Linked DNA regions of Homo sapiens. The protein of the gene in region 4 purifies or fractionates together with the protein of the main gene of each other region. This does not show direct contact. Each region holds a gene or a part of one and is shown on either strand. Other genes may lie near its edges.

The links.
Region 1: the proteins of ASB18 (region 4) and AKR1B1 purify together in Homo sapiens (affinity purification with mass spectrometry, with the first as the bait; one large-scale study listed by BioGRID). This does not show direct contact.
Region 2: the proteins of ASB18 (region 4) and PRPSAP1 purify together in Homo sapiens (affinity purification with mass spectrometry, with the first as the bait; one large-scale study listed by BioGRID). This does not show direct contact.
Region 3: the proteins of ASB18 (region 4) and RBM6 purify together in Homo sapiens (affinity purification with mass spectrometry, with the first as the bait; one large-scale study listed by BioGRID). This does not show direct contact.

The regions. Positions count from the first base shown.
Region 1 is NC_000007.14:134,441,224-134,446,977, forward strand, and holds the end of AKR1B1 (aldo-keto reductase family 1 member B1), read right to left. Parts: intron 4,098-5,754; coding exon 4,015-4,097; intron 1,548-4,014; coding exon 1,505-1,547; 3' UTR 1,133-1,504; downstream 1-1,132. UniProt on the Homo sapiens protein: Catalyzes the NADPH-dependent reduction of a wide variety of carbonyl-containing compounds to their corresponding alcohols.
Region 2 is NC_000017.11:76,321,348-76,327,101, reverse strand, and holds part of PRPSAP1 (phosphoribosyl pyrophosphate synthase-associated protein 1), read left to right. Parts: intron 1-2,802; exon of another isoform or gene 2,803-2,906; intron 2,907-5,754. UniProt on the Homo sapiens protein: Seems to play a negative regulatory role in 5-phosphoribose 1-diphosphate synthesis.
Region 3 is NC_000003.12:50,054,233-50,059,986, reverse strand, and holds part of RBM6 (RNA-binding protein 6), read right to left. Parts: intron 5,653-5,754; coding exon 5,592-5,652; exon of another isoform or gene 5,586-5,591; intron 2,260-5,585; coding exon 1,984-2,259; intron 1,586-1,983; coding exon 1,425-1,585; intron 339-1,424; coding exon 241-338; intron 1-240. UniProt on the Homo sapiens protein: Specifically binds poly(G) RNA homopolymers in vitro.
Region 4 is NC_000002.12:236,211,180-236,216,933, reverse strand, and holds part of ASB18 (ankyrin repeat and SOCS box protein 18), read left to right. Parts: intron 1-30; exon of another isoform or gene 31-296; intron 297-2,067; coding exon 2,068-2,572; intron 2,573-2,708; exon of another isoform or gene 2,709-3,271; intron 3,272-5,754. UniProt on the Homo sapiens protein: May be a substrate-recognition component of a SCF-like ECS (Elongin-Cullin-SOCS-box protein) E3 ubiquitin-protein ligase complex which mediates the ubiquitination and subsequent proteasomal degradation of target proteins.

The DNA.
Region 1 (5,754 bases), on a different chromosome or scaffold from region 4:
TTAAAGTTTTTCCAAAGAGTGTTGAAGCCAACTGGAGAAACAGAGTGGGGATCAGGTCAGATGATTTGACGTAACTTTTGTAACAAAACTAAAATCTACTCTTAATCATCAGAGGGCAACATAAGGTCTGCAGTTTAACAGGTGTGACCTGCCTACTCTGGCAGGGGAAACTGGACCACTGTGATCAGCAGATGCCATGAGGGACCCAGGCCCAAGGCTGCCAGGTAGTAAGGGCAGCCTGTGCAGTGGGGCTCTGGGTTCTCCACCGGGCTCAACCCCAGCCGCAGAGGGGCTAGGTGTGCCCCTCCAGCGCTGGGTGAGGGCCAGGAACCACCACTGCCCAATTAACTATACCTTTAGAGGTGCATCTTAAACACAGATCACCTGCAAAGCAGTTAATGTGACTTGATCATGGGGGTCCTAATTATCCAATAAACAAGGGCAGCCACAAAACAACCTAACTTGATGAACTTTCAAGTCGGCACTTGTCTATTCCATTCCTTTCTTGGCCTTTGTTAACTTAACTCTGGATAAAGAAACGGTAACAAAAAGAAGCAACAGCATTCCGCCTCAAAATCTTTATTTTGTAGCCCTATTTCATCTTCATCCAATTGGAAGCCATTTATTTATGCTTTTCTTTCCTCTTGTCTAGACAACAGGCTTCAGAAAAGCAATTTCTCTCAGGTTGTGCTGCTTAGTAAACACCGACCTCGGCCTTCATACGTAGAAGGAGCAACCAAGGAATCTGTGGAATCGAACATGGGTTTACCCTAAAGCTGTGGCTCAGCCTTGGCTGCACCCTGGAATCACCTGGAGAGCCTGTACACTCCTGCTGTCCTGATCACAGCCCAATCAGATCAGCCTCCAGGGCGAGGTCCAGACATCACCAGCCTTAAAGCCCCCAAAGGTGACCTGGTGTGCAGCCAGGATGAGACCCACAACCCTAAAGCTAAATGGGTAAAGTACTGGGGTGAGGGGCCCCCAACTTGCAGTTGAGGACTTGTAGAAAAGTCAAGTCCTCACTCCTTTTGCATCACTGACTGGCCTGCCTTATGGGTATGTGGAGAGTGATGGTTGAAGTGAGATAGAAGGTTGCTATTGTTTTAAAAAACCAAAGCTCACAAAACCAAGCTCACAAAAGCACTTTTTATTTGAGGCAAAGAGAAGTCTTGCTGAAAGGATTCCAGTTCCAAGCAGTCAAAACTCAACCGTTAGTGGCACTATTTTGACCTGGTAGATTTTGCTTCTCTTTGGTCAGAAAAGGGTATTCAGGTTGTACTTTCCCCAGCAGGGTAGAAAGAAGGGCAAAGCAAACTGGAAGAGACTTCTACTCTACTGACAGGGCTCTTGAGATCCAACATCAAGCTAGACACGCCCTCGCTGGCCACTCTACAGGTTGCTGTCCCACTGCTGAGTGACACAGGCCATACTACATTTGCAAGGAAAAAAATGAGGCAAGAAACACAGGTATAGGTCACTTGGGGACGAGCAGGCAACCACAGCTTCAAAACTCTTCATGGAAGGGGTAATCCTTGTGGGAGGTACAGCTGTCAGGAGAAAGGAGAAAACAGTTGCTTTTTGAAGAGGTGATTTTGACTATACCCAACTCCCAACAGAGAAATGATGTGTCTCACTGAAGAAATAAAATAGAACCTCAGAGGCAACAAGCTAGTTCTGAGTGTGCAGATGATGGTTCTGCAGCTGGGGGAAGCAACTCACCCTCCAGACCCCTCTACCACTACTGTCATCAAGCAGCACATGTGTGAGGGACACCACCCTCCCCATGTGCCCAGCACTGTGCCTGGGCCGTGCAGGACGGCAACACGATTTCTGCCTTCCAGTAACTCAGTCTAGCTGGCAGGACCAGACAGTATTTTGTGGTCTTAAACATCTTGTGTAATAATATGAGAAGGCAGGCCAGACACAGTGGCTCACGCCTGTAATCCCAGGCTGAAGCGAGAGGATCACTTGAGGCTAGGGGTTTGCGACTAGCCTGGGCAACATAGCAAGATTTCCATCTTAATAAAAAAACTTTTTAAATTAACCAGGCATGGTGGTGCATGCCCATGGCCCCAGCTACTTGGGAGGCTGAGGTGGGAGGATCATTTGAGCCCAGGAGGTCAAGGCTGCAGTGAGCTGTGATCATGCCATTACATTCCAGCCTGGGTGACAGAGTAGGAGCCCATTTCAAAAAAAAAAAGGGATGTTAAAAGTCTGTATGTGACTGAATCTCAAAGGATAAGAGAAGCAACGGCAAGTGCTCTGAGGACAGAGGGAGCCTCCTTGTATCAGTGGGGGCTGAAGTGAGCCCAATCAACGGTCGGCGATTTTATATTGGAAACAGGGCAGGGAGCACAGGGCAGGGAGCACATGGCAGGGAGCACAGGTGCAGACGTGTTTGTCAAGGCTCACTCACTGTCCATCTAGTAGGGCCAATGGCTGTGCTAGGAACATAAAGGCAGGAACACTGGACAGATAGCTGGGCAGCTCACGCAAGGCCAGAGTTATGTAATCTGAGCTGGGTGCTTACAGTCTGTAACTCTTATTCAAAAGTTCTCCATGGTCTGCCTTTTTTGTATACCCACAGTGACACTGACATCAGCAGGTCAGGCTCAGTAAAGCATTATCTGCCAGAGGGGTGGTGTGTGTGTAGTTAGCGAAAACTCCCTAGGAGACCTGAGCATGTCAGGGCTAGCCTCTTCCTCCCACTCACCGCCACGCAACAGGATAATCGAACAGAAGTTTCTAGCACAATACTGGAGGGCAGAGGAGCCTAACTGTAAAGGGAGCAATGAGAAAACCACTGTGTTTCCTCAGCCCTGAAAGCTTCAATCCACTCTGTCTCAAGTGGGAGGGGAAAAGGAAGACGGATGAATGGGAGAGATTCTGAAAGGAGAACGAATGTAGCTTGGTGACTGATTCACTCCTCTCCTCCTTGTCCACTAGATCCAAAAATGATTTTAATGTCTAGGGCTAAGTAGCATTAACAGAGATGTCTGAAAGGGCACTGGCCTGGGGCTGCCTGTGACATGCTCTGTTTGCGGCCTATTTTGAGTGTGAGGCCACAGTGTGGCAGCAGCAGGCTTGCCAGGCACGCATATGCCTGAAGCAGGGCCAGAGTTATTGTCCAGGACGCAGACTGGGCAAACATCTGCCTGGGGCGGTGGCTGAAGCCACCAGCAGTGCAAACTCCGGGGAGGGAGATGGGACAGACGCTGGAAAGGGAAAGCTGGTAGCCCACCCCATCTTAGGGAATGTTCACATTTTGCTTAGAAGAGGAAGTACTAAAGGAGAGAGTGTGGAAACACAGAGCTCAGACAAGAATAAGGGTAGTGAGAGAGAAACAGAGTCTCAGTCTCCACTGCAAAATGAGAAGTTCCTTCTTGAAAGCAGAAAGTGAGTTACATGCGTCACCTAGTTATTGTAATGGTAGGAAAAGAGAAAACCCCACAGAAAACCTTCCTAGGCAGCTCCTTCCAAACTACCATGCAGAGGAAACAGAACCAGAGGATGTGTGGCTGGAGGAACTGAGGTGCCTGCTGCTCAGAGGGAGGGCCTGTTTTGGAGCCATGTGGCTTACCAGGTCAGAGCCGGGACTGTCTCAAACCTCAGCCCCAGGGGCTCCCGACCAAACCCCTTTCATTAGGGTCATTAAGACAAAAAGTCACAGGCAAATTCTTCCAGAGTTTGATCCAGGGTCACCTGGGATCACCTAGTTTCAGATGAACTGCTAGGATTTAAAAATTGAATGGAAAGCCAAAATATGTAGTTACTTCAGGCCAGGCCAACAATGCCCCAGGGCTGGAAGAAGATATCAAGAGCGGATCTCTTGGCATCTTGGCTCCATGCAGTTCAGCTGATGCAAGTCACGTGGCTGAGAAAGCAAGGTAATGTGCAAAGCAAGAACAGCTGTGACGAGAGCACATTGGCGCTGAGGCCTGCAGGGATCACTCTCTTGCTGTGCAGCATCTGAATATCTCCTGGGAACTGCTCCTCACACTGGGGCTCACTCACCTCAACAAGGCACAGACCCTCCAGTTCCTGTTGTAGCTGAGTAAGGTGGTCATATCCTGGCTGCTCAGTTCAAAGTCAAAGACCTAAAAAACAAACAAAAAAATCCAGTAAGCTCTGCAAATAAAAATAAAAGACAAAATACTGTGCAGGACCCAGATGTCTTCCATGGCTTTGAGCAGAGAGGAGCGATAAGATAAACTGAACTTAGGAAAAGCTGATATATTAGTATTCAGGAAATGTGCATGTTGGGCTAGATAATATATGGAACGATGGAAACAGTCCTTCCTTTCCAGAACCTCCCAGGGAAATGATACATTTTATTTCATTTCAAAAAACACTACTGAGCACTTCTATTGTGATAAGTTGCAGTGAGGAATATAATTATGGGTAAGATGTGTCTTTGCCTCTATTTTATGAAGCAAACAAAGGGCAGAGGTATTTCTACAACTGTAATACAAATAACTAATCACACACTGTATAAGACACTCAACAGCACAGGAAGGGCAGAGGTATTCCAAAGGGATTCCAGCCGGGAAACTGAACAACCACAGCCGAAGAGGAGATGGTATTTGACATGGCCTAAGAAGTATAAGATTTTGACAGAGAGGGCAAGAAAGGTATACTGGGAGAAGAGAACCACCTGCATGAAGGCAGCAGACGGTACAGAACTCAGCTGGCATGGAGGCTGGGAGGGAGGGAGGCAGGCAGGCACCACTGGGTGAGACCCACAAGAGGCTGACACACACTCCCAGAGCCGAAGGGCTCTTAGCTTCAGATGATCACAGAATGTGCAGAAAGAGAGTCTGCTACAGGCTCTGTGGTTATGATCACAGAAAAATGTGCAAAAGCTATACAGTAAGATGCAAAAATAAAATAATTAGGTTAGCATTTTGAGATTAGTCATTTATTTTTTCTTTCCTAATTCCTTAAAAAATGAAATACGAAACAAACGATGCATCTCTGGTGGGATATGCCTTTCCCTCAGTGGCCACTGTTTTGCCATTTTATCTTGTGTACTTAGAACATCTACCTGCACGTAAGAAGAAAAACGTCTCCTCTCCTAAACAATGAGCTCCACTTCCCTCTTCAGGGATCACTCTCATCCCTGTCTCATATGTGACAGGTGGCAGGCACTATGGCCACAGTCTTTGGGCAGTGGAATTGGGCAAAATCAGCTGCTCACCTAAGCTGGGGCCTGCCCAAGAGCCCCAGGCCCATGGCTGTGCTGCGCTCGGCACAGATCTTGGATAAAGACAGAGCATCCCTGGCAGAGCCACTTTGCTCAGTGAGAACAGAGGCTCTTGGGCCATCAGGACTCCCCTGAGCTGCTCTCCTTTGGGCGTGCCCCCCCCCTCCCCCACACCCCCGCCACCAATGCTGCAAGGGCAGGCAGGGAGGGAGGTGGCGCCAAGTAGCCTGAGCTGCTCCAGCTGCCACACTGAGCGCTTCGCCAGAGTCCTGACACAGGTCTAGGCTCTGCCCATCATCACACGAACTCCTTGCAGAGCTGGTGAATGGACTAAATGGCCCAGAGGGTCCTTTGCAGTCCCTGGACTTATCAGCACAGCAACATTTCTCGATCACTTACTAAGGTATTAAGCACCATGTGAAGTGCTCTGATGCATCACTTAATCTTCGTAACAACCCTCAAAATGGATATTATTTTATAGATAGGGAAGCTGAGGCATCGAGCAGTTAAGCGACTTGCCCAGGGTTATGCAGCTGGTAGCTGACAGAGCT
Region 2 (5,754 bases), on a different chromosome or scaffold from region 4:
TGCTGGGATTACAGGTGTGAGCCACCGTGCCAAGCCGTAATCTGCATTTTTAGCTTTTTATTTTCAACTGACTTTAGACTTAAAGTTGAAAGAATAGTACAGATTTCCAGCATATGCTCTTCACTCGGAGTCCCCAAATTTAACATTTATATACATGGGGTTTTTTTTTTTCCACCATTTGAGGGTGAGTTGCAGACGTAATGTCCCTTCATTCCTAAATACCTTCGTGTATATTTGTAAAGACAAAAGACTCTTATATAACCAGAGTATCATTATCAGACTCAGGAAGCTAACATTGCTGTAACACTGTAATCTACAGACCTTACTCAGGTTTCACCAGTGGTCCCAGCAGTGTCCTTTAGAGCAAAAGAATAAACTTGTTTTCTTGTTCAAGACCTAACCCAGGGTCACACATTGCATTTAGTTGTCATTTCTTTTTAGTCTCATTTAATCTGGAGTGGCTGCTTTATTCTTTGTTTCTTATGACCTTGATACTTTTGAACAGTGCGATCAAGTGATTTTGTAGACTCTCCCTTAATTGGGGCTTGTTTGTGTCCTCAGGATTAGATTCAGGTTATGCATTTTTGGCAGAAAATCACAGGAAACACATGATGTGTCCCATTACTGGTGATGTGCATTCTGATAAGTTGGTTAAGGTTTCTCTGGCAGGTTTCTCCACTGTAAAGTTACTCTTTTTTTTTTCCTCTTTGTAATTAATACTACCTCATGTTAAGACTATGTTTTAACTGTAAATATTCTGCTTCTCATCAAAATGAACATCTACTGATGATTCTTGCCTGAATCAATTATTGACTGTGATTGTTGTCAGTGTTCATTTTTCTAACTCTATCATTCCTTCTACATTTATTAGTTGACCTTCTAATGCAAGAAAGCTTTCTCTTCTTCCCTATTCATTTCTTCATTTATATCAGTATGGATTCATAGGCCTATTTCATTCAGTGGGTTATAATTCATTGTCGTCACAGGAATACCTTAAATATTGCAGGTTCAGTTCTGCACCATTGCAGTAGGTGAATATTATAATAAAGTGAGTCTCATGAATTTTTTGATGTCCCAGCACATGTAAAAGTTATGTTTATACTGTAGTCTGTTAAATGCTCAATATCATTGTGTCTAAAAACCAATGTACGTACCTTAATTTAAAAATACTTTACTGCTAAAAAATACTAGCAGTTGGCCAGGCGCAATGGCTCAGGCCTGTAATCCCAGCACTTTGGGAGGCTGAGGCGGGCAGATCACGAGGTCAGGAGATCGAGACCGTCCTGACTAACACTGTGAAATCGCGTCTCTACTAAAAAAATGCAAAAAATTAGCCGGGCGTAGTGGCGGGCGCCTGTAGTCCCAGCTACCGGGTGGCTGAGGCAGGAGAATGGCATGGAGGCAGGAGAATGGAGGTGGAGCTTACAGTGAGCTGAAATCGCGCCACTGCACTCCAGCCTGGGTGACAGAGCGAGACTCTGTCTCAAAAAAAAAAAAAAAAAATTAGCAGTCATCTGAGCCTCCATCTTGTTGGTGGAGGGTCTTGCCTCGATGTTGATGGCTGCTGACTGATCAGGGTGGTGGTTGTTGAAAGTTGGGATGGGCTGTGGAAATTTCTTTTCTTTCTTTTTTTTAAGAGATGGGGTCTGTTTCCCAGGTTGGTCTTTTTTTTTTTTTTTTTTTTTTTTTTGAGACTGAGTCTCCTCGCTCTGTCGCCCAGGCTGGAGTGCAGTGGCGCGATCTCAGCTCACTGCAAGCTCCGCCTCCCGGGTTCACGCCATTCTCCTGCCTCAGCCTCCCGAATAGCTGGGACTACAGGCACCCGCTACCACGCCCGGGTAATTTTTTGTATTTTTAGTAGAGACGGCATTTCACCGAGTTAGCCAGGATGGTCTCCATCTCCTGACCTCATGATCCGCCCGCCTCGGCTTCCCAAAGTGCTGGGATTACAGGCGTAAACCACTGTGCCCGGACCCAGGTTGGTCTTGAATTCCTGGCCTCAGGCAATTTTTCTTTTCTTTTTTTTTTTTTTGTTTTGAGACGAGTCTCTCTCTGTCGTCCAGGCTGGAGTGCAGTGGTTCACCCAGTTCACTGCAAGCTCCACCCCCCAGGTTCACACCATTCTCCTGCCGCAGCCTCCCAAGTAGCTGGGACTACAGGTGCCTGCCACCACACCTGGCTAATTTTTTTTTTTTTGTATTTTTAGTAGAGATGGGGTTTCACCATGTTAGCCAGGATGGTCTCGATCTCCTGACCTCATGATCCGCCCGCCTTGGCCTCCCAAAGTGCTGGGATTACAGGAGTGAGCCACTGCACCCTGCCAGCCTCAGGCAATTTTTATACCTCAGCCTCCTGAGTAGCTGGGATTACAGGCAAGAGTGATTGTGCTCAGCTGTGGCAATTTCTTAAAACAACGAAGTTTGCCTCGTTGATTGACTCTTCCTTTCACAAAAGATCTTTCTGTAGCATGTAATGCTGTTTTATAGCTTTTTTTTTTTTGAGATGGAGTTTTCGCTCTTGTTGCCCAGGCTGGAGTGCAGTGGTGCAGTCTTGGCTCACTGCAACTTCCACCTCCTGGATTTAAGTGATTCTCCTGCCTCGGCCTCCCTAAGTAGCTGGGATTATAGGTATGCATCACCACACCTGGCTAATTTTTTTTGTATTTAGTAGAGACAGGGTTTCACCATGTTGGTCAGGCTGGTCTGGAACTCCTGACCTCAGATGATCCACCCGCCTTAGCCTCCCAAAGTGCTGGGATTACAGGCGTGAGCCACTGCGCCCGGCTGACAGCATTTTTTAAAATGTCAGCCAGGTGATGTACTGATGTTCTAACAAGGTTCAAGGATGGCACATCTCACATGTAAGCGTGAACACCCAATGATCACACTTATGAACTACAAAATGATCTGTTTGATAGCATTTTACCTAGAAGAAAGAACTACTTTCTTTTTTTTTTTTTTTGAGACAGTCTCACTCTGTTGCCCAGGCTGGAGTGCAGTGGCACCATCTCGGCTCCCTGCAACTTCTGCCTCCTGGGTCCAAGCAATTCTGCCTCAGCTTCCCGAGTAGCTGGGATTACAGATGTGTGCCACCACACCCGCCTAATTTTTGTATTATTAGTAGAGACAGGGTTTTACCATGTCAGCCACGCTGGTCTCGAACTCCTGACCTCAGGTGATCTGCCCGCCTCGGCCTCCAAAAGTGCTGGGATTACAGGCGTGAGCCACTGCGCCCAGCCGAAAGAACTACTTTCAAAATTGTAGTCACTGTTCTCAAACCCTGCCACTGTGTTATCAAATAATTTTTGTAATACTTCTAAATCCTTGTTTTCATTTCAGCAGAGTTCACAGCATCTTCAGCAGTAGATTCATCTCAAAAAAAAAAACAAAAAACCTTCTTTGCTTATCTATCAAAGCAACTCCTTATCCATTACAGTTTTATCATAAGATTGAAGCAGCCCAGTCACAGCTTCAGGTTCCAGTTCTAATTCTAGTTCTTTTGCTCTTTCCACCACATCTGCAGTTACTTCTACCATGGAGGCCCTGAACTCCTCAGAGTCATCCATGAGGGTTAGAATCAACTTCTTCCAAACTCCTGTTAATGTTGATATTTTGGCCTCCTCCCATGAATCACGCGTGTTCTTCATGGCATCTAGAATGGTGCATCCTTTCCAGAGATTTTCAGTTTACTTTGGGTCCTTCAGAGGAATCACTATCTATGGCATCTATAGTCTTATAAAATGTATTTCTTTTTTTTTTTTGATACAGAGTCTTGCTCTGTCACCCAGGCTGGAGTGCAGTGGCGCAATCTCGGCTCAGTGCAACCTCTGCTTTCCAGGTTCAGGTGATTCTCGTGCCTCATTCTCTCGAGTTTCTGGGATTGCAGGTGTGCACCACCACGCCCAGCTAATTTTTGTATTTTTAATAGAGACAGGGTTTCACCATGTTGGCCAGGCTGATCTCAAACTCCTGACCTCAGGTGATCTGCGTGCTTCAGCCTCCCAAAGTGCTGGGATTATAGGTGTGAGCCACCACGCCCAGCCAAATGTATTTCTTTTTATTTTATTTTAGAGGCGGGGTCTCTGTCTGCTGTCCAGGCTGGAGTACAGTGACAGGATCTCCCTCTCTCACCCAGACCTGCAGTGCAGTGGTGCGATCACTGCTCACTGCAGCCTCTACCACCTGGGCTCAGGTGATCCTCCCACCTCAGCCTCCTGAGTAGCTTGGAAGCTGGGACCACAGGTACGTGCCACCACACCTGACTAATTTTTGTATTTTTTGTGGAGACGGAGTTTTGCCATGTTGCCCAGGCTGGTCATGAACTCCTGGGCTCAAGCAGTCAACCCATCTTGGCCTCCCGAAGTGCTAGGATTAGAGGTATGAGCCACTGTGCCCAAGCACCCAGCTAATTTTTAGAAATTTTTAGTAGAGACAGGGTCTTGTCTTGTTGTCCAGGCTGGTATCAAATTCATTGGCTCAAGTAATCCTCCCGCCTCAGCCTGTATTCTTGACAGTTTGGGAGGGTGAGGTGGGAGGATCACCTTATTGTTATTACTCTTAATAATAAGACTTGGAAGTTGAAATTACTCCTTGTTCAATGGGCTGCAGAATGGATGTTGTATTAGCGGGCATGAAAACATCACTAATCTCCTTGTGTATCTCCATCAGAGCTGTCGAAAGACTGTTGTTTGATAAATATATTTTTTTGAGATGGAGTCTTGCTCTGTCGCCCAGGCTGGAGTGCAATGGCACGATCTCGGCTTAGTGCAATCTTCACCTCCTGGGTTCAAGCGATTCTCCTGCCTCAGCTTCCCGAGTAGCTGGGATTACAGGCGTACACCACCACGCCTGGCTAATTTAGTATTTTTAGTAGAGATGAGGTTTCACCATGTTGGTCGGGCTGGTCACGAACTCCTGACCTCAAATGATCTAACTGCCTCAGCCTCCCAAAGTGCTGGGATTACAGGTGTGAACTACTGCGCCCGGCCTGTTGTTTGATATTGTTTGAACTTTTATCAATTATCTTAGTTAGATCTTCGGAGTAACTTATTGCAGCTTCTACATGAGCACTTACTGCTTCACCTTGCACTCTTAGGTCACGGAAACGGCTTCTTTCCTTAAACTTCATGAAAAAGCCTTGCTCTGGATTAGGCTTTGGCTTAAGGGAATTTTATTTTGTGTCTGGTTTGATCTATCCAGATCACTCAAACTTCTCTGTATCAGTAATAAGGCTGTTTTATTTTCTCATCATTTGTGTGTTCCCTGGAGTCACATTTTTAATGTCCTTCATGAACTTTTCCTTTGCATTCACAGCCTGGCTGTTTGACTAAAGAGGTGTAGCTTTTGGCTTTTGACACACTAAGCTTAATTATTTCTAGCTTTTGATTTAAAGTAAGAGACATGGGGCTCTTCCTTTCACTTAAACACTTAGAGGCCATTGTAGGGTTATTGGCCTAATTTCAATATATTGTGTCTCAGGGAATAGGGAGGTCCAACAAGAGGAAGAGACGGGAACAGCAGGTCAGTGGAGCAGTCAGAATACACATTTACTAAGTTTGCTGTCTTTTTTTTTGTGCGTGTGTGTGTGTGTGACAGAGTTTCACTCTGGCTCTCGGCTCACTGCAACCTCCGCCTCCCGGGTCCAAGTAATTCTCCTGCCTCAGCCCCTGAGTAGCATGCTTCACCACACCCAGCTAATTTTTGTATTTTTAGTAACGACGGGGTTTCACCATGTTGGTCAGGCTGGTCTTGAACT
Region 3 (5,754 bases), on a different chromosome or scaffold from region 4:
CCCAAAGATACCAGACAGTCAAAAGGGAAAGGACAAAAGTACCTAGTATTATTCAAGAAAGAAAACAATTCGAGAGTCAGGACAAGTCAGGCTTCAGAAAGAAACTGTAATAAACACCTATCTGAAGCAGTCCATGTTAGGAAAACATCATGCTTTACTGTTTTTCCAGCCAGGAAAAGGAGTTTCCTCTCAAAAACACAAGTGGGGGCAGCACAAGAGATCCTCACCCTTCTGCCTTACCTTCGTTTTCCAGTGGCCAGGTTTACAGCTACCATCTTCCCATCAATGCTAAATGGCGGATCAAGGTTCTGTAAGATCTTCACCACACGAAGAGCTTCCTATAGAACCAGACACACTTGAACCCAGAGACAGAAAATGCCAGAACCCAAAGACAGAAAAATTCTCCTTTGAAAGAGAAGTGAACGTGGATTTTCCTTCTCAGAGGATAAATTTACTACATTATATTCTGTCAAAATTTTAACAGTAAGAGCATACTGGCAGAAACAGGCAACTTTTAATGAAGGACTGATTGGAACAGGAATCAGAATAGATGTCAGTTCTGGCATAAACTTCAGAAATTCAAATCCTCTTCTTTTAGGTTGCAATTATCATCAATCAGATTCAGTTTACAAAGTCCCTTGTGACTTTTGAGCATGAAAAATCTAAGAAATACCAATGACTTTCATTATCTTCACCTTACTTCCATAGAAAAAGGCCCCGCAACTAAAAATTTAAGCCACAGGAATCTATAAATACTTTGAGGAAAAAGAGGAAATGTTTTATCATCAAATATAAAACCATCTGTGGCTGGACAAAATAAATCAGAAAGTTCACTAAAATCATGAAGGATTCAGTACTCAGATTCTTCACAAGCGAGTAAGTTGGAAACAGTAAATGACACAAGAAAAAAATGAACCTAGAAAACCAGACGGGATCCTAACTTTTGAGGGCTGTCACCTGACCTGAATGAACAATAAACCCAAAGGAGAGAGCAAGAGGGATTATGATATCAGGTAGCACACAAGAATTCAAATGATCAAGAAGTCCCTCAAATTTTTTTTTTTTTTTTTTGAGACAGAGTCTCGCTCTGTCACCCAGGCTGAAGTGCAGTGGCGCGATCTCGGCTCACTGCAAGCTCCGCCTCCGGAGTTCACGCCATTCTCCTGCCTCAGCCTCCCGAGTAGCTGCGACTACAGGCGCCTGCCACCACGCCCAGCTAATTTTTCTGTATTTTTTAGTAGAGACAGGGTTTCACCGTGTTAGCCAGGATGGTCTTGATTTCCTGACCTCGTGATCCACCCACCTCGGCCTCCCAAAGTGCTGGGATTACAGGCGTAAGCCACCAGGCCCGGCCCCCAGTCAAACCTTCTTGAAGGTTCTTTAGCCATCTGTCTCTAGGCCAATCCAAGGTGGAGGAAACTCACCGCATGGGAGTCGAGGTCAATAAAGCCATAGGTATGCCCCATAGGGCCTGTTCTGTTCTTGATGATACGGACGTTGGCAGTAGTAAGGCGGACATAGGGCTCCAGCACTTCCACTATCACCTCAGGTGGTGTGGAACGATAGATACGCTTTAGCATGATAGCTGAATCAACCATAAATGGGAGAAGGGCAACACAAGGGAGAGAAAGATAAATTTTTGAAGTCCCAAGAATCTGACTGTCATTTTTTACTATAGATGCTACTAGCAAGGCTGGTTCTGTAAAAAAATGCTAAACAAATAAATACTGCATACTTTTCTTCACCAATACTTAGAAATCTAAAATCATGCCTTACTGCATTCATATAGCAATTTACTATTTGAAGGGCATAGATTCCTTTAAGCAGTACAGGAAGGTCCACAGACAGCAATGGCCTCTGTCATCAGGTCATGCACAGATCTCTCAGGGTACTGGAAAGCAGATAGCTCCCGGACATAACATTGGCCATCTATGCTCCATTGTGATGATCACAGTCTGGTATGTGCCCTGACAAACTACTTACTTTTGCTCTCTCCATCCTGGCGTGTCTCTCCAGACCATGACTCCCTCTCTCGGTCTCTTCGGAAAGTTGGCCCTTCCCTTCGAGAAGGAGGCAGATACCTTTCTGCTTCTCTCTTTTGATGTCCTAAGCGTGACTCTTGGCCTTCTTCCCTCTTCCTGGGTTCAGGTTCCTTATCAGCTGGTCTTAGGGGCTGGTTGGGCTGTTTTTCCAATGGTGCTGGTATGGATGTTTTCTGAGGCTGAGGGTAGGTTATTAATTCTTGCTTGGCCTCTGTCACTAGTGGAACAGAAACAAAGAGAATCTCTAGAAAGCTTTATCAAAAAAAAAAAAAAAGAAAAAACACTGCTACTGTAATTTCTCCTTACCTGCCAGCAAATACTCATACTGGAATGCCTTTTTTTTTTTTTTTTTTTTTTGAGACGGAGTTTTGCTCTTGTTGCCCAGCTGAAGTGCAATGGCATGATCTTGGCTCACTGCAACCTCTGCCTCCCGGGTTCAAGCGATTCTCCTGCCTCAGCCTTCAGAGTAGCTGGGATCACAGGTGCCCACCACCACGCCCAGGTAATTTTTTGTATTTTTAGTAGAAACGAGGTTTCACCATGTTGGCCAGGCTGGTCTCGAACTCCTGACCTCAGGTGATCCACTTGCCTCGGCCTCCCAGAGTGCTGGGATTACAGGTGTGAGCAAACACGCCCGGCCTGGAATGCTTTTAATATTATCTCAGAAATATCTAATAAAAAGTCCTCTGACAGTTCCTGACAAAATATTTTAAGTGAAGCTGAGACAGGACATGAAATAGTTCACAGAAGAAACTATCCAAGCATTTAAAAAATGTAATCTTATGAAATCTCTATATCACCTACTAAACATTTAAATATAACAAATCCTTCATGACACCTTGAACCTGACTATCATAATCAATGATAACAACACATCTGGGGACAAAATTACCGAAGATATGGCCCTTACTTAAGGTTTAGTAGAAACACATATCCCAAACACACATCTAGAAGCCTTGCTTCTTCCAGTGTTACAGTGCTCAAACAGCTACTCATATCCTGTAAGACCACAGGCCCTCCTCCAGTGAAGCTAGGAACAGACCCTATCTGCACGTAGCTCCTTTATATGCAAATAAACATAATGGGCAGACGTCCTTCAAAATATAAATGATTTATTTCAAATGTCCTACTACAGCAGGATAATTTGTCTTTATAGTTTGTTTTATAATTAGGGGCACATTCTTGTAACTAATTCATTCTTGGAGGGTTCACTGGAATCCATGTGGCTCAAAAAGAGGTATTATATGAGAGCAATATAGAGATTACATAATAGCAGTGACAGGTTTCCAGATTAAAGCTGTCTCATCTTAGTGGTATGGTGCCCAGTGGTTTTCATACACTATCTATTCATGGCCGGGAGCGGTGGCTCACGCCTGTAATCCCAGCACATTGGGAGACTGAGGCGGGCAGATCACGAGGTCAGGAGATCGAGACCATCCTGGCTAACACAGTGAAACCCTGTCTCTACTGAAAATACAAAAAATTAGCTGGGCACGGTGGCGGGTGCCTGTAATCCCAGCTACTTGGGAGGCTGAGGCAGGAGAATGGCGTGAACCTGGGAGGCAGAGCTTGCAGTGAGCCGAGATTGCGCCACTGCACTTCAGCCTGGGTGACAGAGCAAGACTCCGTCTCAAAAAAAAAAAGAAAAAAAACAAAAAACTATCTATTCATTTGCTGGAATAGCTTTGAAAAAAAGTGTTTCTTGTGGGGGGAAAAAAACACAACTTTGCCTAACCTGAAGTGACCTAACAAGCAAAAATCTCAGTTGTTCATCCTCCTTCCCACATTTTGGTTTGGTTTCTAGAACATACACAGCCTTCCCCTAAAGATTTTCAGAACACCTGCCTTTCAGTCTTCACCAGAGTAAAATCTCCACAAGAGGACAAAAGCCCACCTAAGAAACTCCTTGTAGGCACATTAAACTCTAACCTTGCAACAAACAGAAGGCTACCTGAATCCCTGCACTGAACTATATTTTATGGTCATGCTGTGGCTTTCCTTAAGGGATGACTACAGGACTGTTGTTATGGATGCATGTGTCTGACTCTTCGAAGTTGCCTACCTGAAATTTCTCTAAAGAAATTTACATTAAAGATAAGTGCTTGAGAAGCTGGTAGTTTTATTCCTCTAAAATAATAAAATGTTCCCCACATCCTGATTATTTTCTCCTATTTATGTTTTTACTGTTATTTTAACAAATGTTTTTCTCTTGAAAATCCTGAAATGCTTACAGAATGTAAAAGAGAAAACAATAGAGCAAATGATTCCCAATAACTTCAAAGAAGTAGGAGTGGGAGAAAGGTTTGCCACACAGACTGATGTCATAAAGACTCTTTTTCAACCTAACATCCTTAATCCTTAAATGTATTCCAAATAACAATATACTGACCTCTGCTCAGCTGCCCACTTAGCCACTTTAGCCTAGGAGCCCACAACCCTATCTCTTTCCTCTGGTGAAAATAAGATCTGAAATCATTTACTAACAGGTTACGTTAAGTTGGGCACCAAACTGCAATTTTTTTTTTCTCACTCTGTTGCCTAGGCTGGAGTGCAGTGGCGAGATCTCAGCTCACTGCAACCTCTGACTCCTGGGTTCAAGCGATTCTAGTGTCTCAGCCTCCCAAGGAGCTGGGATTCCAAGCATGTGCCACCACACCTGTGGCTAATTTTTGTAATTTTAGTAGAGACAGGGTTTCGGCATGTTGGTCAGGCTGGTCTTGAACTCCTGACCACAGGTGATCCACCTGCCTTGGCCTCCCAAAGTGCTGGGATTACAAGCGTTAGCCACCATGCCTAGCTCAAATTGCACTTTTGAAAGGTTTGGGCCGGTCGTGGTGGTTCACGCCTGTAATCGCAGCACTTTGGGAGGCTGAGGCAGACAGATCACGAGGTCAGGAGATCGAGACCATCCTGGCTAACACGGTGAAACTCCGTCTCTACTAAAATACAAATAATTAGCTGGGCATGGTGGTGGGCGCCTATAGTCCCAGCTACTAGAGAGGCTGAGGCAGGAGAACAGCGTGAACCTGGGAGGCGGAGCTTGCAGTGATCCGAGATTGCGCCACTGCACTCCAGCCTGGGTGAGTACGAGACTCTGTCTCAAAAATAAATAAATAAATAAAGGTTTGCAGGCCTTGTGCAGTGATTCACACCTGTAATCCCAGCACTATGGGAGGCCAAGGTGGGTCGGGTCACAAGGTCAGGAGTTCAAGGCCAGCCTGACCAACATGGTGAAACCCCGTCTCTACTAAAAATACAAAAAAATTAGCCGGGCTACAGGGCGTGGTGGCACATGCCTGGAATCCCAGCTAATCAGGAGGCTAGGGCAGGGGAATCGCTTGAACCTGGGAGCTGGAGGTTGCAGTGAGCCAAGATGGTGCCACTGCACTCCAGCCTGGGCAACACAGCGAGACTCCATCTCAAAAAAAAAAAAAAAGGTTTGTAGATCAACTTGGATTTAGGGATGATAATTCTTCAAAGCCAAGGAAAACATGAAATTTGTTTTGCTCAATGCACGAGATAAAAACTGCTACCACTTTCGCCACTCACCTTCTCTTGGGTTCTTGCAGAATGAACAGGAAGATCGGTGCCCACCAATGTTTGCCTTACACTGTAAGGAAGAAGGAAATCAATTTGACTGAAAACATTTTTAAAAATCTTATGTATATCTAACAAAGTGAAACCCCCCAAAAATGAAAGAAACAAGCCATAT
Region 4 (5,754 bases):
GCACGGCAGAGTGTGCTCTCAGCACCATACCTGGTCAGGCAGAATTGAAGCATGGAGAGGCGGCGCCTCAGGAGGTGAACCCGGTGAGCCCCCAGGAGCTGGATCATGATGTGTCCTGGGTCCTGAAGAGAGCAGTGTGGGCTTCGCCCAGCAGGCAGGGGGAGTGGTGGGGTTGTTGGCAGGCACATTTGATTGGCACTGGAAAGGCTCTTTCCAGATAGTATGCAGTTTGCTAGATTGCAGCAAGGGGCAAATGAAGAGACTTATAAGCATTCCGAGAAACGATGTGGCCTCAACAAAGGACAGTGACACTGGGAGTGGAGGGAGGAAGCAGTTCAGGTGATGAGATGGCTCAGTGACCAGTTGAAATGGGGCAGGGAAATAGAAAGACAGGAAAATGGCAAGAAGCAAGTCATCTAGAGCAAGACCCCAAATAAGCCAAAGACGACTAACTCTGGGCCAAGATGATCAAGAGGGAGTGCCTTCCTTAGGCCTGGGGAAGAGGGAGGCAACAGCTGTTGTCAAAACAGATTCTAATCAGTGTTGAAACAGATGTGTTTGCAGAAGGCAGGCAGGTGAGGGAGTTCCTGGGAGCTGCACCCTGAATGAAGCTGATGTAGACAGCTGAAAAGGAAGAGGGCGGAAGCTTGAGGACCAAGGTCAACATTAGGAGTGGTTAGTGGAGAGCAAGGCATGAGGAGGTGGCCTTAACACTGAAAGATATCAGTTAACTGAGGCCCAGCTGAGACCAAGGCCAGCTCCATGAAGGCTGCGTCCTCCAACAGGGCTCGGCAGACCCGCAGAGAAAAGGAGGGGGGTGAAGAATGGACTCCGGCTTGAAGATTCGGCCATTTGAGTAGGGGATGGCCATGGTCCCCTCCATTCAAGGGAACTGAGGATGCAGATGACGAGGTGACCACAGTGCTGCCCAGGAAAGGAACTGAAGCCAGGAAGGGTAGAGAGAAACGAGAGGTCCAGGGCTCAGGTCTCCATAGAGCAAAGATGGCAAGTAGGACCAACAGGCATTGGGGAGCTAGAGGACTAGGGCTGTAGTCTGAAGTCGGCATGTTTGCAGACTTCCAAGGCTGGAGCGGCCTTATCGATGGCAGGTGACTATGGGAGCAGGTGGCTGAAGTTGGGGGTGGGCTTGTGTTTTTCCGTGTCCATGAAGGACAAGGACCAGCGGAGGGCAGAGGGTCTGTATGACTGTCTTCCGGCTTCCAGGCTGGGGCACACTTCTCACCAGGCATCTGAGCCTAGGCTGAGCTGTTTAGAGTGCCCCCAGGGGATGGGAGAGGCTCTGAGGAAGCCTGGTGCCTGGGGTAGAGGACAGTCATGCTCCTGGAGGCAGCAGAAGGAAGACACTCGTCTCTGGGGAAGACCGCAGGCTCCCATGGGGGTCTAGAAGCTCCTGGAGACCACTGGGGAATTCAGGTGCAGCCAATATCCAGTCTGTTCAAGCAGCACAGGTAGGCTCACAACAGGGCCTGGTTGTGCTTCCCACCTAATGCTCCCCGGACTGTCAGAGGACAGGGTGGTGCCAGCCTGAGTCAGTGTCCTGAGGGATGGGGAAAGTCCCTTCGTGGTGCAAGGCAAGGCTTGCCTCACACCCTCACAAAGCTGAGCGGTTTCCAGAAGGGCTAGATGGGGGCCGGGAAAGAGTCTGACCCCCAAGGGCCTCTCCTTAGAACTGTGACTGCCAAACCCTTAACCTCCAGGTGTGACAAAGAGCTCAGGTAACCAGTGCATGGAGCACCGTCATTTGAACCACATCACCTTCCCAGGAAGCTCCAAGCAGTTAAAATTTCCTTATAAATTGTAACTCTGCACGTGGATTCTTATGGCATATCCTTTGCTATTTACACCACTCAGGAGCTGGTTTTGCCATAATCTCTTTTTTTTTTTTTTTTTTTCCAGTTTAGTTTGAACTCCTGACGCCTTGGTATGGGAGAGCGGAGCATGTCTTTTCATTCAGAGGTCACTTGATATTTTGCAGCAGCAGGCCGGGGGTGGAAGGGTGCGGGCGTCCTGCGTGGCGCCCGAGTGACAGGCCCTGGCTTCCCACAGGTGCGCGCAGGCGCTGCTGGAGCACGGGGCCTCGGTGCAGCGCGTGGGCGGCACGGGCCGGGACACGCCGCTGCACGTGGCGGCGCAGCGCGGCCTGGACGAGCACGCGCGCCTGTACCTGGGCCGCGGGGCGCACGTGGACGCGAGGAACGGCCGCGGAGAGACGGCTCTGAGCGCGGCCTGCGGTGCGGCGCGGAGGCCCGACGAGCACGGGCGCTGCCTGCGCCTGTGCGCGCTGCTGCTGCGGCGCGGGGCGGAGGCGGACGCGCGCGACGAGGACGAGCGCAGCCCGCTGCACAAAGCCTGCGGCCACGCGAGCCACAGCCTGGCGCGCCTCCTACTGCGGCACGGCGCCGACGCGGGCGCGCTCGACTATGGCGGGGCCTCGCCGCTGGGCCGCGTGCTCCAGACCGCATCCTGCGCTCTCCAGGCCTCACCGCAGCGCACGGTGCAGGCGCTGCTCAACCACGGCTCTCCCACCGTGTGGCCCGACGCCTTCCCCAAGGTAAGGCAGGATCCAGCCCGGCTGGCACGTGCCCTGGAGTTTTGCCACTTAGTGACCGGCCTGGGAGCTGGGTTGCATGCGGCGCTCTCAAAGTGTAATGGCCCAGGCACCCCTGGGGACTTGTGAAAATGCAGAATCTGCTCTGCCGGTCTGGGGTGGGAGAGCCTGCATTGCCAACAAGCTCCCGGGTGTGGCCTAGACTGCTGTTCCTGGGACCCCATTTTGAGGAACAGGGGCCTAGAAGCCTTCTGGTTAGAGCCACGAGACAATTAAGGGGTTGCATGTGAAGAATGCATCCTTTCAAAGTAGTCACCTGGGGACGGACGCCAGGCACTTATTTCGATGATGCAGTCAGAGCTCAAAATATTTTGGCAGCTCATCATCAGTGTCATTTTCAGAACGATGAAAATCAGTCTTTTGCCACATCTGGCATTTGATCTGAAACAAAATTACCCAATCTGATCATCCACCTTGTTAATGAGAGTGCTTCGTACATTTGCAGACTTCTCTCATTCGGTCCTCACCACATTGCAGTGAAACACGAGAGGCAGGTGATATTCTCCCTCTACCTGGGGTTCGGTCAGGTGAAGTGCCCTGCCCAGGTCATTGCAGTGTTGGGACCTCACCCCCATTCTGCTGGCTCACCCTTGCAGACTTGACTCTGAACAACTCATCCTTGTTCCACCCGTCAGATCTACCCTGAAATAATAATGATAAAGAATAAAGATTTCTCACCTCAGAAAATAACCCAAAAGACTGAAAATGTTTCCAAAATATTGGCTGGAGTAACAGGTTGTCCTCCCGAAAAGACTTCATTGAAGGGAAGTCATTCCATTAGATGTAAAATCCGGGTGTGTTTAATTTAAAAATTATCTCCATCAACCAAGACTCATCACTCATAGACATAAGACATATTTTGGCCTGATTAGTTTTGAACAAATAGCTGAAAAGCTAATATTCAAAAGTACAGTGTTCTCAGTGGTCTGAACCATCGAGAAGTGAGATTCACTCATTTCTCTCAAATGCTAACTTTCCATTATAGATGCGTTCAGAGTAGACTGTGCCTCTGAAAGGTTAGAAAATCCCCCGAGACAACTCCCCTAGTGTTTGCTCACTTGACAAACAGGATGGCACTTTCCCGATGCTGTCTCACCCCCTCTTTGGGTAATTGTCTTGTGGTGCTCCACTAAGGCAATGATTTCAATATAGTGGACTCCTGAAAGGGAAGAAATGCTAGCATTTTTATGTTCTGTGACAGCTACCTTTTATATTTATAATTTACATTTTAATGTTTCCCATCATTAGCAGGCTTAGTTCATCAACTTATAACATGGAAACAAGACTCACTGCCCTTCCCATGCACACTGTGTCTGCATTAAACCAACACACACTTCAGCCCTTGTCATATGCAACTGCATAAAGAATGAAAAGAGGCCAGGCATGGTGACTCACACCTGTAATCCCAGCACTTTGGGAGGCTGAGGCAGGAGGATCACTTGAGTCCAGGAGTTTAAGACCAGCCTGGGCAACATAGCAAGATCCTATCTCTACAAAAATTTTTTTAAAAAAATTAGCAGGGCCTGGTGGCATGCACCTGTAGTCCCAGCTACTCAGGAGGCTGAGGCAGGAGGATTACCTAAACCCAGGATGTGGAGGCTGCAGTGAGCTGTGATAGCAACACTACACTCCAGCCTGGGTGATAGAGCAAGACCCTGTCTCCAAAAAAAGGAATGAAAAGAGAAAACAAAGTTACAGGATGGGCCAAAAGGGGAAAATATCTGGGCCAATTATTTTTTTCTGACTTACTTATTCAGGGAAGAATGGGGCAATTTATTTTAAAGAAAAAAAAAGGAGTCAATATATTTCAGTAGCGACTAGAAATAATCCTTTGTTAGCCTTGAAATTGTTTCAATTTGAGTGATCTCTGACCAGGCTTTCAAATCCTAGGGGCAGCCCCACAGGCATCATTTCTAGGAACAGGACCTCTGACCCCTGGACTCTGTTTCCAAGGCTGTAGAAATTACACTGCCTTGACTAGAGATGCAGGACAAAGCACAGCACCTCCTCTCTAGGTGCTCAGGGGCCCTGTTCTGGGATGGGATCCCCAGTACTATGTCAGCCACACAGAAATGGGGTCAGTCAGTGGTGCAACTCATCCTCCATTCAGGTTGGGGGTAGGTTTAGATTTGTTGTACCTGGGGGCCAAAAAGCCATGGGAAGTGCTTGACAAGGAATCTTGTCAGTTCCCACCCATCCTGGAAGGAATTGGAGTTTTCTTGAGAAATCTTAATACCTTGAGGCTTTTGCAAAAAGCGTTGCCCACCGCTGCCTCCCTGAACATGGCGCCTGCAAGCACAGACCTTCCATCAGTGTTTGTTGAATGAATGAAAGGGATTCCAGCCACTGCAGGCTCATGGCCTGCATTAAATCTTTGGAAATAAGGATTCCACCTTTTTGCACTGGGATTCCCCCACACCTCCAGTGGGTACCCCTACACCTGGCCAGGAGAGGATGGTGGATGAGGATGCATTCACCATGCTGAGAATCCCACAAGCAAAGGCAGCAGTGCCTGTAATGTTCTAGCTTGGTCCCCACAACCGAAGCAAAACTCTGTGGAAAGCTAGAGGCAGCCTCTTCCTCCACCCAGTCTCCCTGCAATCGCTCCTCCAGGGACGGCATCTAATCATGTGCGACATCAAAGCAACAGACGCTGCAGCCAGCCACAAAGATGCTGGGCAGGCACCACACGGGCGCCATGGCGAGCCGAGCGTAGAGTCACCAGCACTGTCACAGGGCAAGCCGTCCGTGGGCAGCAGCCGTACTGTGAATAGATGTAAAGAGACACCCATGGAGCGCAGAATTACCGAGGCAAAAGGTTTCACAGCGAGCTTATGACATAAATCACAGCTCCCCATGCCCAGACAAAGGCACCATCGTCGCGGCAGGCGGACACAGGGCATCCTTCCGAGCCGGCGCAGTGCTCTGCAGTGAGAATCAAAGTAGTGTCACGGCTTCGGAAGCCCACGTGTTGACAGTGCCAGGCCTTTCTGCCTGGCTGACCGCTAGTTAACACTGGGGGCAGGGACAGGGCACCGAGGGCAGGCATAGGGGGCAGGCTGTGGATTCTGGCAGGTTTGGATTCTGGAAGATGTCAGGGCAGGCTGGGGCTGGGCCTGTTGGAC